Linked DNA regions of Homo sapiens: region 2 is linked to region 1. Evidence: fine-mapped expression QTL. A gene starts in region 1. The other region holds a variant in brackets. All regions are shown on one strand. Distances are from middle to middle.

Region 1 (2,911 bases):
TGTCTTTCCATGCAGGCTTGCTTCTAGCTGATACACAGGCTTTTCTGGAACAGTGGTTTTCAAAATTTCTTTGTGCATCAGAGAATCTCCTGAAGGGCTCCTTAAAAATTGCTGGGCTCAAAAGGACAACATATGAAGCTTAGGAGTGAAGGGACTTCCTGAGCAGAAATGGGCAAACTTCAGTCTTTTTACTGTGTCTTTGCAGTATTCTATAGATAATTTCCTTAATTTGTAAATTTAGTGACCATTAGCTAGTGATCATTTGATGGGCAGCGATTCTAACAGTATAAAGTCCACAATGTTCTATGTCCCTAGCCTGCCGTTTTTCAGCTGCATGTAAAAGGGGGTAGGATGAGATAATCGACCATTATAAAGATTTAACTATTTTATGCTGAAGCGGCCATATTTTCAAGGGATGACACCATCTTGCACACAACAATGAAGGTACTCGGCCATAGACTTGGAGTGAGACCATATATGGGGATGAGATTCTTCTAGATCCTAATACTGCTGTACTGGCCTGTGTGTACATGGGGTCCTTCAGCTGAGGCCTTGCAAGGCAAGCCAGCTGTGCCATGTTTGTAGATGGGGCAGAGGAAGCTAGAACAATGGAAAAGTAACCTATTTATGCTAGGTCCACCTATTGAAACGAGGTAGGAATGAGGCTAGGGTCCTTAACTTCCTTCAGGCATACTTTTCTAGCTACCTTCTGCCCTGTGTCTGGTACCTACATCCTTGATGATTGTTCTCTTTCATCCATTGTGGAGATATATATATGTATGAAAAGCAAAAAAAATAAATTGCTGGGCTGGCACTACCTCAAAGCTTCTGATCCAGGAGGCCTAGGAGGGGGCAGTTAAGATGCATTTCTTACTAGTTCCCAGGTGATGCTTCTGCTGCTAGTCTGGGCACCACACTTTGAGAATCACAGCTCTAGGGCTAGGGGTGCTAATCTTCATTCCAAATGGAAAGGAGGCTGCTAAGGAGTCCACTTAAGTAATTTTTCCTGCGATAAAGACTTGCTTCCTTGTCACTTGCTGTCAACACCCCTCCACACAGCAGCGACTGCCTGGCTTAATTCTTAAAGTAGAGGCCTCTCAATAGACAGGGTGGACACTTCTTCGCCTCCTGGCAGGAGAGAGAAAGAACGGACTTCAATCTTTGGTTGGCAGGGCCTGACTAGGCAGTCGGGCACAGAACCCTAGGGCTTTCCCACCCCTTTGCTTTCTCACTTGTAAAACGAATAAAGGTACTGGTCCTGCCAGCTTCACAGGTTGCTGTACATAGAGGAATGGTTGGTTGAAAGTGCCCTGCATAACGCAAGCTCTTTAGGACTCGCAAACAGCCTTAATCGCAGTAAGGGGGCACATCAGGGCTGTGAGAAGGCCCCCTTGAGGGCTCGGCACAGGTGATTCTGGGCTCTCTGTGCTTGCCAGCCTCCTAAAGTAGGTGCCCACTTTCAGAAGCTCTGCACGCCCCACCTGGGCGCCTCTGCTGGAGGTCTGCCTGGCCCGGGGCACCCGTGTGCGCGCGAGGATTTCTTTTGCAGAGAATGAAACCACCGTTCCTTTCCGTCCGTGGTCTACTCCGGGGTCCCCATCCCACGTAAGTGCTGTGGAACCCCGGGGTGATGAGCCCCGGGGGAAGCCAGCATCTCTTGCCCTCCAGTGCCGGCGCCCGGCAGAGCCCCGGGACTCCTAGTTTTTGCCGCCGCTGAGGACGCGGCGCGGGCTGCTGGCCGCGTCGCCGAGGGAGGGCCCGGACAGCCCTGCAGCGCGTCTCAGCGGAGCCCTGGGGGCCGCGCCGCTCCTCCAAACATGATTCAGAACCGCCCGTCAGCCTTGGCTCCAGCGCCTGGCGCGAGCGAACCGGGCTTGGCTGTCTCGGCCCCGTCTGAACCCTGCGGGCCGCGGGCCAGGGCGCGCCGGGATCCGCTGCGCCAGGACCCTGCAGACCCGGCCGCGGCCGGGCCGAGTGCCTCCCGCCGGGGCCTTACGCCCACGGTCCACGCTTGCAACACCAGGGCTGTACGGCGGGTCCGCAGCTGGGTCTGCGCCTGGGACTCGGGGCTCCCTGCGCTCCTCGTGCCGCACCCCTTGCCTTAACCCCAAGCGGACGGGTCCTGGGGCTTCACCGGCCAGGCCGGAGCCCCAGCCCCACAACTCCCCCCCTCCCACCGCACTGCCCCCTCTGCGCTGTGGCGGGAGTTGGGGACTGGGGCCGGAGAAAGGAGACGCGCCGGTCCTCAAGTCTCTTGAGCCATTTCGGTTCCGGGCGCGCCCCCCAGGGCTGCAGTCGCGCGAGGTTCCAGATAGTGCAGCTGTGTGGCGCCAGGCTTCCAGCGGGTTCTTGGTGGGGGTTCCCTCTCTGTGAGTCGGTGGGCAGAGATTTGCCTTGGAGGGTCGCACCTGGCTACAGAAGTATGAGACTTAGTTTCCGGGGAGCAGAGGGGCCTTGGGATAAGGAACTGAAGCTTCTGGGGAGTAGTTTGGAATTTTGGTTCCACCAATTATCAGCTGTCCAACCTGGAGAAATCCACTCCCCCTGTTTTCTTGGTTATAAATAACTATAGCTACCATTTGAGTGCTTATTATTTTCCATGTACTTTACGTATGTTATTTTTATCTTTCCAACGATTTTACAGGCCATATTCTGCTGATGGAGAAATGGGATCTCACCCAAGGAAAGTGACTTGCCAGGGTTACACCACTGGTAAGTGGAGACCTATGACTTGAACCTGTCTCTAACTCCAGAGACTGTACTTTCTCGGTAAGTGAGAACATTGACGCCATACAAAGAATTTTAAAACTGTAAGATGGTGACGGATACCATTCTCTTCTGACCTGTCCTCAGGCCACGTCCTGAAGTCCAGGCTGAAAGCATGACCTTTCTTTCTCCCTACCTCCTCAGC
Region 2 (2,911 bases), 9.6 kb after region 1:
TGGGTTAGACTATGTCCCCCCACAAAATATATGCTCAAGTCTCATCTGCCATCTACATTATTTGGAAATAGGGTCTTTGCAGATGTAAACTGGTTAAGATAATAAAAAAAAAAATAAATAAATAAAGGTAATGGCAACAATGAAAAAAAAAAGTAAGTCATCCTGGGATAGGGTGGGAGAGCCCTAATTCAATGTGACTGGTGTCCTCGAAAGAAGAGGGGAATTTGGACACAGAGACACAGCTGAACTTACTGAGCAGAGCCTCCCAGATGCTGCAAACTCAAGGAGGCCTCTGTGCTCATATCTTTATTCTCTCTCTCTCTCTCTCTCTCTCTGTCTCTGGTACAGCGTTTATGCTTTTTGGCAGTTCTTTCCTCTTCATTCCCCCATCTCTCCAATTACACATTCATATACACATAAACACTCCGATACCCTCAAACTACCAGAAGCCACGTCAGAGACTTGAGAACTTTGGACCAGGAACTGATGGAGACAAAGATGACCTAGGAAGATGGCTACATTGGGAATGGAGGCAGAGATTGGAGTTATGTGGCCACAAGGGAAGGAACTCCTGGGGCTCCCAGAAGCTGGAAGAAACAAGGATCCTTCCCCTATAGGCTTTGGAGGGAGCGTGGCTCTGCAACACCTTGGTTTTGGACTTCTAGCTCCAGAAGTGTAAGAGAATAAATTTCTGTGATCTCATATTCAGTTCATGGTGCTATATCATGGTAGCCCTAGAAACTAAGATACACAGGTATGTTGGATGTATGGGTCAGGCCCACACCCAGGGTGCATACGGCCTTTGGTTAAAAAAAAACTCTCATTTCTGTGGGGAATCCATTGCCAGTGGTCTGGATGACATGGCCACTGCCTCTCTTCAGGGATGTGCACAAGACCCTGGCCTGGCCAATCAGAATACCTCATGCCCAGGACCACAGTAACTGGGTCAGGGGTTGTCAAGATTTATATAAATGATTTACATAAAATGTTTAAATGTTTTGTTAAAATATTTAAAATAAAAAATGTTTCTAAGATTTCAGTTGCCAATTGTTTTTTGTGAGTATATACAAATACAACTGATTTTTACATATTGGTTTTGTATCCTGTATACTTGCTAAATTCATGCATTAGTTGTATTTTTCTAGATTTCTTAGAATTTTCTATGTACACAAATCACAATGTCTGTGAATATACACGACATTACTTCTTCGTTTCCAAAACTTATGCTTTTCACTTCTTGTTCTTGCCTTGTTGCACTGGGTAGAACCTCAGTTGTATATTAAATATATTTTTTAAAAAGGTAGACATTTGAGCCTTGTTTCCAATCTTGGGAAGACACTATTCAGTCTTTTGCCCTTGTCTGCTTCTAAGCTGCCAAAGCCTGTGCTGTGGTGGGGAAATGTCACTCTGTGGGCCAGCCATGGTGTGAGTGTGCAGATGGGACAGCAGCAGCAGGTGCATTCTCCTGGGAGGCCAGGCCTGGTGGCAGGCATCTGTAATCCCTGCTATTTGGGAGGCTGAAGCTGGAGGGTGGCTTGAGCCTGGGAGTTCGAGTCCAGCCTGAGCCACACAGCGAGACACTGTCTCTTAAAACAAAAAATAAAAAACAAAACCAACAACCCCCACG[C/A]CTGCCTGCCAAATTTTCCTGGGGAAGGCAAGACACACAATTAAGAAAGTAAACATTATGTCATCCTTGTCTGTATCTCAGTAGCCATAGTTGTGGATTCCTTCAGTTCTCTCTTGGTAGAAGGTGGGGCCTGAATAAATGACGACATAAAGCCAGCTGAACTTAGTGAGCAGAGCCTCCCAGATGCTGCAAACTCAAGGAGGCCTCTGTGCTCAGATCTTTATTTTCTCTCTCTCTCTCTCTCTGTCTCTGGCACAGCGTTTATGCTTTTTGGCAGTTCTTTCCTCTTCAATCCCCCATCTCTTCAATTACACATTCATGTACACATCAACACTCCGATACCCTCAAACTACCAGAAGCCACATCAGAGACTTGAGAGCTTTGGACCAGGAACTGATGGAGACAAAGACGACCTAGGAATGGTTGCTTGCCCTACCCTCAGGAGTTTACAATTACTGATAGAGACAGAAGTCTTTGCAGGAGGTGGGGGGCGGGGGGTAGGAGAAACTTTACAAACACACCTGTCAGCATACACAGGGATAATAATAGGAAAGGGGGTTTTCATACAAGGGAAGCATCTGGAAACTGGGAGGGTCCTACAAAGCTGTATAATCCAGCGTCTGTTGAGATGCAGGAGACCACCCCAGCTCCCAGGCCTGCCTTGATAAACACCTTGAATTTGCAAGATGAAGTTTGAGGATGGGTAGGAGATGCTAATTATAGCCTATATTAATGAAGCTATAAAGTAAATAATTGTAGCCTCCTATTACCAAGCACGAAGGGAATATTTTGGGTAATCTAAGTGGAAAGTCCAGAGCGTAGGTCTGGCTTTAGGCATGGTGGAGTAGTAGCCTAAGGCTCACATCCTACCAGTTAGCAACCAACCCCAGGAAGAGTAAAGCTCCTTCCCCACTAGCTTTGGCAGAAAAGTCCTATAGGAAGATCTGATTAGCTGGGTTTGGGTCACATGACTACCCCAACCCAATCACTGTGACCAAGGGCATGAGATATTCTGATTGGCCAGGCTAGGGTCTTGTGCCCATCCCTGAAGAGGGGCAGTGGCCATGCCATCCAGACCACTGGCAATGGATTCCCCACAGAAATCTTTTACTGGAAGAAGTAGGGAGCTCAGTTCCGGACAGGCAGCACAATTGCAGCCTATGACACCCTCTAAGCCTTAACTCCATGTATGACTGTATGAAGCAAATGACTTATCCTCATGATGCATGTTTCTTCATCTGAAAGAGCGGTCATAGTTTTGATTTATGTTATATTTACACAATG

Which allele goes with the higher level. Positions count from the first base shown, and alleles are read on the strand shown. Sizes are in standard deviations (SD) of each study's normalised expression.
For the expression in ovary of the gene that starts at base 1,521 in region 1, allele A in region 2 goes with a higher level than allele C (moderate effect, 0.65 SD a copy in GTEx).

The links. PIP is the estimated chance that this variant, and not a neighbour inherited with it, causes the effect.
Region 2: its variant is the best candidate, but not a certain one, in a credible set for the expression of LINC02767 in ovary (GTEx, PIP 0.53).

Annotation. Positions count from the first base shown.
Region 1 is chr1:207,957,471-207,960,381 of GRCh38, forward strand. It overlaps LINC02767 (long intergenic non-protein coding RNA 2767), which reads left to right and starts at 1,521. Exons shown (of 3, transcript NR_167983.1): 1 at 1,521-1,605; 2 at 2,645-2,769. RefSeq lists enhancers at 992-1,493, 1,494-1,993.
Region 2 is chr1:207,967,109-207,970,019 of GRCh38, forward strand. LINC02767 (long intergenic non-protein coding RNA 2767) reads left to right here. Exons shown (of 3, transcript NR_167983.1): 3 at 349-1,034. Among named protein-coding and RNA genes, the nearest start is that of LINC02767, 9.6 kb to the left of the region's middle. The variant C/A (reference allele first, on the strand shown) is at 1,628.